Linked DNA regions of Homo sapiens. The protein of the gene in region 1 purifies or fractionates together with the protein of each later gene. This does not show direct contact. Each region holds a gene or a part of one and is shown on either strand. Other genes may lie near its edges.

Region 1 (2,790 bases):
GCACGGTCTCCTCAGGATACATTTCCAGAGGTGTAAGTCCAATTCTAAGTAGGCACATATTGATTGCTGTTGATACACCTTGTCAAATAATTTTCTTAGTCATGAGGCAATTCTAAGTATAAATAAAGTATCTTATTTTCTTCCCAAATGACTTTTACTCTATTTGGCCAAAAATGTTTCTCCACTGGGCATTTAGGCCAAGCACCGGTGTATAAGGAGGAGTAGTCTTAGAGACCAAGTCTGAGGGACTGGGCTGCCAGTTCCTGCATACAGTAAAACCAGAGTGGACAATCATGGTGGACCAGGTGCCTCCCGCTCCACTTGCCAAACATTTAGGAGGAATCTAATCTGAGAAGAGACCTGAATATCAGGATGCCATAGTGCTGTTAATCGAACCTCTCTAAAGGAGAAGGTTTAAGCACATGGGGATATGGATTATCAGTTAAAAATAAAAAGGCGTTTGTCAACTGAAAAAGCTGAAGAAATATTGGTACCATGCATTATTCTAAAACCTGCTTTATTTAGAAATTACAAAGAGCAAAGAGCAGAGAAATCATCACAGGGAGAAAGACTGTGTACATCATACGACTAGTCACTTGTGCTTCCATGCATACTGCGGGGCGGGGGTTCACAATACTTTTAACTTAGGGAGTTTGGGGGCCAATGGAAAATAAGTGGAAGTTGTTCTGAAATAAGCCCCAGGCGATTTTCAGTAATGAAAAGGAACAGAGATCATTTTCTTATAATGCTCAGCCTCAGAGAGAACAATTTTGGAGGCAAGAAATTAATAATTTAGTAACAAAGTGAAGCTCCATTGGTGAATACATTATGATGTAAAATCAAAGGTTGATCTGATGGTGAGCAATGGGTGCTCAGATGGGGCAGGTATAGACAGAGAGAAGTGAGGGCACTAAGCATCCATACCCAGCTCTACCTCGGAGAGCAGGGAAGACTAGAGGCCAGGAGAGGATAGGCAACCTGAGGAGACGGCTCTGCAGCCAGAGAAGGGCCTGAGGACTGTGGGACCGAGAGCTGGAGGCAGCACTTTAGTGCTTGTAGCTCTTCCTGCTGGAGGAGGAGGTGGTGGTGTACTTGATGGTGGAACTGCCGCCTCCAACAGAGCTGAGGCCACCCCCAATGGCTCTGCCACTGCTGGAACTGAAGCCACCTCCAATGCCAAGACCACTGCCATAGGAGTAGCTGCTTCCTCCACCCAGGCCTAAGCCACTGCCGACACCGCTGGCACCGCCATAGCCACTGGAGATGGTGGACTGTACTACAGCTGTGGTGGGGAGGGGACAAGGACACAAGAAGCCACGGTGAGCTCATCCTGCCGGCCTGAGCCCAGTCAGAAGAGTGCGAGGGCAGGGGAGGAAGGCAAGCAAAGGTACTTACAGACGTTGACTTGTCCAACGCCTTCGCCATTCAGCCTGTGGAGAGGAACACAGGGAGGGTGAGACCTCAGAGAGCTCTTCCTTCCCTGGACCAGTGTGGGCAGCCTCGGTGGGTGGAAGAGTCCATGGGAAACTGCTCTTTTAGTTTTCTCTCAAGAAGAGCAATTACGGCCATGAGCAGTGCACCCTAGAATTGTGCTCAGTGCCAGGAACCTTGAAGATGGACTCAGCTGTTGGAGGAAGTCGCGTCAGTTACCTACCTGCACTCCTCGCCCTCCAGCAGCTTGCGGTAGGTGGCGATCTCCACATCCAGGGCCAGCTTGACATTCATCAGCTCCTGGTACTCCTTCAGCAGCCGGGCCAGGTCCTGCTTGGCCTTCTGCAGGGCATCCTCCAGCCCTTCCAGCTTGTTCTTAGCATCCTTGAGTGCCATCTCCCCACGCTGCTCAGCATCAGCAATGGCAGCCTGCAGGCTGGCACACTAGGAGGGGAAAGGAAGAGAAGGAACTTCTTGTCTGCTCCTCCGGAGGAGGCTGGCCCTTGTTTAGTGAACCAGGGTCCTGTAACCCAAAATTGACAGAGAATGAGCTTTGACTCTTCCTGTCCAGTATTTCTCCATTTGGCAATATTTGTCTAGTCTGGGAGTCAAGTGACAAAGTCCTATGCCCCTTGTATTAAGCACCCGCATGAGAATGTGCGTTGCATCTTATGGGAGACACTACAATGGACCCAAAAACAAGCCATATGGAAGATGAATGCTCGGTTTGTACTGAGTGCTGTTTTCAAAACTACAAGAATGATTTTGAGGAATACATCTGGATGCCACATTAAAATATACAAAATTATGACCATCTGTAGGGGAGGTGGTAACTTTTTACCTGACTGTTGAGACCTGGCCTTGCTTGTGCCTCAGAGGCTCATCCTCTTGGGTGGGATTCACTTCTCTATTGAGTTCTCACTGAGGGCAAGAACTACACATGTTCCTCACCCTAGTGTTGGTTTACGTTTCAGGAATTATATCAAATAATGGCTAATGACTGCCTGATGGGTCTAGCAAAAAATGATGCTTCTTTCCTCCACTGCACCTCACTGTACCTGCTTCTTGACATGGTCGATCTCAGATCTCAGCCTCTGGATCATGCGGTTGATCTCAGCAATCTCCTGCTTGGTGTTGCGCAGGTCGTCCCCATGTCTGCCTGCTGTGACCTGCAGCTCCTCGTACTGCAGCCCAGAGGTGGAGAGAGAGACAGTGTCTACGGGTTCTTACCTGGGAGCGATGACTTTCACTTGTGTATCATGCATGTCATGAAGTGGACCTAATGGCTTCTCCTCAAGAAACTTGAGGAAAAGTTGATGTTATGTGGTGGGTGGATACTAAACTCTGGAGTCACAGACG
Region 2 (3,288 bases), on another chromosome or scaffold:
CCTCATTTTATGGAGGAGTAAGGTGAACAAGGTGGGCTGACCCCGGAGCCCACGCACTTGATCCTGCCACATCCTCGGGAAAACTTCCCCAGAGCCCAAAGGGGAACTCCCTCCTGCACTTGGTCAGGGCTCTTGGCTTTCTGTCCTCTGGAGCACAGATGTTCATGCCTGCATCTACCTCCCTCACCATAACTAAGGTCAGCGCTGAATGAAGCCATCAGGGTCCTGAAACTGATCATGGTGACACTGGATTTTAGGCAATCTACAAGGCTATCTAGGAGACTTAGGGCAGGTTCCCCTCATAATTCAGTCTACCCCTCATAATTCAGTCTACTCTGAGTAGGGAACACTATCAGCATCATGGGATTGTGACAAAAAAGCATAAGATGGTTTTCTGGTGTGTTGGGGTTGTTTTGCCTAAACTATCTGCTCCTGTTTTGTTTTTCATTTCTCCTTCATTTAGGACTTAAAGATGGAGGAAGCTATGAGCAATACAGGTATTTCGTTTTATTATTAAAGCCTAAACAAAGTTCTCCTATCTTGGCCCATCCTTCAGTCTCATCTCTGTGAGTCTGCACCTGTTATCTTGAGAAACTGCCCTTCCCTCTGGTCTGCCCGAGACCAGGATCACCCACCAAAGATAGGTGTCACCTAGGAGACCTTCTTTGTATAGTTCTTTGGGGACTTTTTCTTTCTTGGTGATGGTTAACATTCATTCTCCTTTGACACTTGAAAACTTAGGCAGTTTCAGCGTCGAAAGTGGCCAGAAATGAAGAGACCTTCTTCCAAATCACTGTGAGTTGAGGAACCAGCTTACAAATAGAAATCTGGTTCTGACCGCTTCATTTTGCCAATGCTATTCTATTTGCATGCCATTTCTTACATACCACCCTTTGTTTGTTCTCATGATGAGGGTGGGGGGGAAGTACTAATGCACATCTTTCCCTAAGAAAACACTTGAATCCATTTCATGTTTTAGATTAATGCCTTGTCCAGTACACTGCTGTTCTCGCTATAATCTGTGCTTGGTAAACTTGAGCTATTACTTAGAGGTTGAGAAGCATTTAAATATTACAAATTGCTAGGCATCTTGAAGGCTGTGGCTACAAAAGTGCTAACTGATATACAACATCAGTAGTAGGATGGCCTCATTAAATGGTTTCCAAAAAGCCCATGCTACAAACTCTCACTCCAGTGCCATTGGAGGCTGACAGGGACTAAGAGACTGGCAACCTGTAAAGTTCACCTCTATTCTAAAGGGAGCAGGCCAGTTTGCTCCCTGCAGGAATGGGCTGAGGTTCGCCAGATTTTCTCATTCGTCTACCAAATCCAAAAATGCAAGTATGTGTGAGAATTCTTTATCATTATCATCTAATTTGACATTAAGTTAACCATGTGGGCAAATTATCGCCCTTGGTGAACTGCCACTTGCAACCTCTGGTCTACTCATTTCTTCCTTTATATGCATATAAACCTGTGTGGCTTTAATAGGACATTAGTAACAGGTCACCTAAGCCTTTCTTCGGTGCTTCTAGAATTAAGGTACAGAATCTTTACATATCACAATCTCCTTAGCCACTATTCTGTCCAGATCCTTAAATGCCATCCTTGCCAGGCATTGGGTGTATAAGTAAACAAAAAATTGAGGTGACTAGGTGGTGGCAATCCCGTTCTAAGTAACCTAGAAATATTCATTCTCAGCAGCCTTGAAGCAAAGCTTCCTCAGCTATAGGACCGATTAGGAAGTCATGATAAAGACCATGATAGCTAAGTGCTAAGATGAGTTTGTTTTGTTCTTTAGGGGACAACTGTGGGAAGGCTGGGAAGGTTAAGAAACAACAGAGGTGGACCTCCAAAAACATAGAGGCATCACCTGACTGCACAGGCAATGAAAAACCATGTGGGTGATTTCCAGCAGACCTGTGGTATTGGCCAGGAGGCCTGAGAAAGCAAGCACGCACTCTCAGTCAACATGACAGATTCTGGAGGATAACCAGCAGGAGCAGAGATAACTTCAGGAAGTCCATTTTTGCCCCTGCTTTTGCTTTGGATTATACCTCACCAGCTGCACAAAATGCATTTTTTCGTATCAAAAAGTCACCACTAACCCTCCCCCAGAAGCTCACAAAGGAAAACGGAGAGAGCGAGCGAGAGAGATTTCCTTGGAAATTTCTCCCAAGGGCGAAAGTCATTGGAATTTTTAAATCATAGGGGAAAAGCAGTCCTGTTCTAAATCCTCTTATTCTTTTGGTTTGTCACAAAGAAGGAACTAAGAAGCAGGACAGAGGCAACGTGGAGAGGCTGAAAACAGTGCAGAGACGTTTGACAATGAGTCAGTAGCACAAAAGAGATGACATTTACCTAGCACTATAAACCCTGGTTGCCTCTGAAGAAACTGCCTTCATTGTATATATGTGACTATTTACATGTAATCAACATGGGAACTTTTAGGGGAACCTAATAAGAAATCCCAATTTTCAGGAGTGGTGGTGTCAATAAACGCTCTGTGGCCAGTGTAAAAGAAAATCCCTCGCAGTTGTGGACATTTCTGTTCCTGTCCAGATACCATTTCTCCTAGTATTTCTTTGTTATGTCCCAGAACTGATGTTTTTTTTTTAAGGTACTGAAAAGAAATGAAGTTGATGTATGTCCCAAGTTTTGATGAAACTGTATTTGTAAAAAAAATTTTGTAGTTTAAGTATTGTCATACAGTGTTCAAAACCCCAGCCAATGACCAGCAGTTGGTATGAAGAACCTTTGACATTTTGTAAAAGGCCATTTCTTGGGAGTTTTTTGGTGTGTCTGTTTTTTTAAAGTATTCAAGATACTACCAGTCAACATCTTTTTGGAAGAAAATGCCTTGGGTTTAGAAGATTTTCTTAAAAGGGGAGTAGATGGTTGTAGATTGACTAAAAAGTCTACCATACTTCAAGGGACTACAGGTAAGTCTCATAGTATACCAGCTTTGGTACTTCATTTTTTAAAAAAGTATTAATCAATTGCAAAGAAATTCGCCTTGGCCAACCCTTCTTTGTGTATCAGGTAGTCTAACCTGATACAAGTAGTTGACAGATTTCAACTATCAATCACCAGTCCAACCCATTTCTCATTTAACAGATGACGGAGATAATCCCTAAAAGCACCCACATTTGTTTCAATGCCCCAAACAGGCCAAGGCTCCCTAGCAACTCCCTAGTGGCGTTTTTTAACTTCTCAGAAACTGTTACCATTATTTGAAATAGGCTTCCTTAACCTCCTTTACCCTTAACCCAACAGGGATTTAAAAAA
Region 3 (3,500 bases), on another chromosome or scaffold:
TCATTCTAGTCGATATTTACTGACTGCTTCTGTGTGCTGGGTCTTTGTATGGCAAGTATATTTATTCAGTGGATGTTTATTAACTCAGTATTTTTGAGGTCCTGTGTGAAGGGTTTTCAGTAGTAGATTCTGTCCTCCAACAGACATTTAGCACCTCATAAAACTAAATGTCAGGTCATCCTGTGCTAATGGATATACATGGATTCATCTATTCATGATTATAGATATGCTGGGTGCCAGGCACTGGGTTGGTCACTAAGGATTCTGTGTTGAAGACAGACAGGGTCCCTGTTCTCATGAAGCTTATGTTCAAATGGAGGCACAGGGAATAAACCTGCAACCAAACAAGCACTACAAAGAAAATAAAACAGGGAATGTGATCCAGCCTTTCTGGTTAGAGGTGGGACTGCCAGGGCAGGTTGGGTTGTGAAAGAAGATGACATTTGAGGGTGTCTTGAATGGTGAGATGGAGCCAGCCTTGGGAAAAGCAAGAGCAAAATCTCTGAGGTCAGAGCAAGGGACTAGAAGGGGAGCCAGGAAGCCATGAGTCAGAGGTAGGGGGTTACCAGTGAGGCTGGAGAACTAGGCAAGAGTCCAGATCCTGAAAGGCCTGGTGGGCTGTGCTAAGGAGTTTGGATTTTATCCTAATTGCACTGGGGACCCATGTGACCGTTTGAAGCCAGGAATGATATGATCTGACTCCCATTCTGCATGGGGTCAGAAAGAACATTTTGGTGTTGGCCGGAATTTAAGTTGGAATCTTCAAAATAGAAGATGATGCTGACATTGACAGCTAAGATTTATTAGGAGAAAACCTTTTTATCTTTAGCAGCAACCACATAATAAATCATAATAGTTAACTTTTATTGGGGATATATTATGAGTTGGGTAATGTGCTTGATACATGGTGAAATCAGTTATTTCTATTCTGTCCATTTCACTGGTGAGGAATTGGAGATTCAGAGAGGTGATGTCACTTGCCTTAGGTCACCCAGCCAACAAGTGAGGAAGCAGGGATAGGAACCTGAGTGTTTCTGGCCCCGGAACCCAACCCCCTTATTGTCATGCCTTAGGCTGGGAGGCAGTTCAGCATGCACATTCATGCCAACTCCTGGTGCTTGGGGCCCCACCAACCCCATCTGGCTCTGGGTGTGAAGGTCAGGACTGAGTAGGATGCTCAGTAAACTCACCTGGGCCTTCTTGGCTTTCCTGGCCACAGTAAAAATAGCTCACAATAATCATAGCTATGATATATAGCGTACAGGTGTTTAGGATTTAGGTACTTCTCTGCATATTTACTCATTTAAGCCTTACAACACCTCTGGGAAGTGGGTGCTATTTTTAATCTCCTTTTTTTTTTTTTTTTGAGATGGAGTCTCACTCTGTCACCCAGGCTGGAGTGCAGTGGCACCATCTGGCTCACTGCAACCTCCACCTCCTGGGTTCAAGCGATTCTCCTGCGTCAGCCTCCCGAGTAGCTGGAATTACAGGTGCACATCACCATGCCTGGCTAATTTTTTTTTTTTGTATTTTTAGTAGAGGCGGGCTTTCACCATGTTGGCCAGGCTGGTCTCGAACTCCTGACCTCAGTTGATCCACCCACCTTGGCCTCCCAAAGTGCTGGGATTACAGGCGTGAACCACCAAGTCCAGCCCCTTTTATCCCCATCTTAAAGATGAAAAAAGTGAGGCACAGTGAGGTTAAAAGACTTGTCTGAGGTTAGTCCCACAGAGTGAAATGGCAAGACCAGGACTGGCACAAGGACCACCTGCTCAGAACGCACACTGTTATCCATGTGCTGAGTTCTGTCTACAAAAAGCTGGTGCTCCTGGCTCCAGGTGAGGCCAGCTAGAAGCAGCCAGACCCATGTCAGCTCTGTGGCTCCAGGCATGGGCAGGAGTGGTGCTGCTGTGCCCAGAATTATCCATGTGTGTACAAGGGCCAGTGGGAGCATGGTAGGGAAATGAGGTTTCCTTGTTAACGAAAGGCTTTGAGTGCCAGTGGTTTCCTTAGAAGAGGAGCCGAGAGATCCCTGGGTTTCCCTCATCAGGAAGGGAGTCTTGCTGAGTGCTCTCAAAATAAAAGCAAGCGCCCTACTATAGCAGGTGGCAAGCCTCAGAAAATTGTTCCCTGGAGAGGAGGGGGTGCAGGTGGAACCTCTAACAAGGCTCAAAGAGCATGCCTCTGATATCAATATTAAGCCAAGTCAGGACACTCAGACCCCAGCTATGTCCTGTGAAGTGACCCCCTCCTCTCCCCTCCCTAACAGTGTCTTTGGGGCTTGTGGGCCTCAGACAGCACATTAGGCTGGGCACACACAGGTCTCGGGATGGCATTTCCTTCATGCCATCTCCAGAAGCCTTCCCTGCAGCAAGCAATGCCAGGCAGAGCTTAGACGCTAAGCAGGTTATGTGATTAGTGCCGCTGTTCAGTCAGCAGACAAATTAATCTCCTTAAGTGGTTTAGTGGAGGGTGGAGATGCGTGGGTCTGAAAGCAGGAGGTCTCCGCGGGCTCAGCAGGCATGGGACGCAGGCTCAGCTTCCCCATCACCAGCACTTGCAGTCTCCCAGACCCGCCTTGTCACCCATCGCCGTCCCCGGCCTGCCATGCCCTGGACTCTGTGCCCCTCAATGCTGCGAGCCCTTGCCCTGCTCCGGTCTGCCCGCAGGTGCTCAGAGGTGTTAGCTGTGAGGTTGTAAGATCTGGATCTGGCCTTCCCCGCTGCAAGGAGGGCAGGAATTGTCTTATTCATCTTTGTAGTTCTGAACATGGCAATGGGCCTGGCACATCGTGAGTGATCATTACTTGGGCAAGGAAGGAATGTGCAGCACGTGTTGAGTGCTTAGTTATGAGCCTCAGATCAGAGACTTTCAAGGGCCCCTGTTAAGGTTAGGGAAGAGGAGGAGCTGAATTCGGAGTGGAAAGGGATAGGCAGTGGAAGAACGGGTGCTTAATCTCTCCCTTCTCTGTCCTGAGGGTCCAGGGGCTGTTATTTTGCCCCAGGTGGGTAGGGATGGATCTGTTAGGTTGATGCAAAAGTAATTGCAGTTTTTGCCATTGAAAGTATGGATATCTACAGTGATAGGAACAGTAGTGGCAATAAGGATAGTTGTAATGAGTTTTGCAGAGCACTTTGCCTGCCTGCACCAATCTCTATATTAAGGACTTCCCTTATAATGTCTCGCTGAGTCCTGTCAACAGCCCTATAAGTAGGTATTATTATCCAAGTTTTACAAATGAGGCATCTGAGGCTTAACAGGATTAAGTCAGTATCTCAAGGTCATGAAGCAGTGAGTGGTGGAGCCGGATTTGAATCCAGGCAGTTCGACTCAAGAGCCTGGGATGGTAAAACACAAAATCACATGTGACTCCTTCCATCACCCTAAAGCAAACTTTTTTTTAATTTTTTTTTTTTTTTTTTTTTTTTGCTTTAGCATTTAGAGGTGGTTGGAATTTGGTGGAACCGTCTGTCTTCCATAGAGAGTGTATCAAAATTGGG

Evidence for each region.
Region 2: the proteins of KRT6C (region 1) and SULF2 purify together in Homo sapiens (co-immunoprecipitation; one large-scale study listed by IntAct). This does not show direct contact.
Region 3: the proteins of KRT6C (region 1) and WWC1 purify together in Homo sapiens (co-immunoprecipitation; one large-scale study listed by IntAct). This does not show direct contact.

What each region holds. Positions count from the first base shown.
Region 1 is NC_000012.12:52,468,016-52,470,805, forward strand, and holds the end of KRT6C (keratin, type II cytoskeletal 6C), read right to left. Parts: intron 2,616-2,790; coding exon 2,490-2,615; intron 1,876-2,489; coding exon 1,655-1,875; intron 1,431-1,654; coding exon 1,396-1,430; intron 1,283-1,395; coding exon 1,047-1,282; 3' UTR 501-1,046; downstream 1-500.
Region 2 is NC_000020.11:47,656,906-47,660,193, reverse strand, and holds the end of SULF2 (extracellular sulfatase Sulf-2 isoform a precursor), read left to right. Parts: intron 1-463; coding exon 464-497; intron 498-741; coding exon 742-795; intron 796-1,801; coding exon 1,802-1,832; 3' UTR 1,833-2,788; downstream 2,789-3,288. UniProt on the Homo sapiens protein: Exhibits arylsulfatase activity and highly specific endoglucosamine-6-sulfatase activity. It can remove sulfate from the C-6 position of glucosamine within specific subregions of intact heparin.
Region 3 is NC_000005.10:168,424,145-168,427,644, forward strand, and holds part of WWC1 (protein KIBRA), read left to right. Parts: intron 1-3,500. UniProt on the Homo sapiens protein: Regulator of the Hippo signaling pathway, also known as the Salvador-Warts-Hippo (SWH) pathway.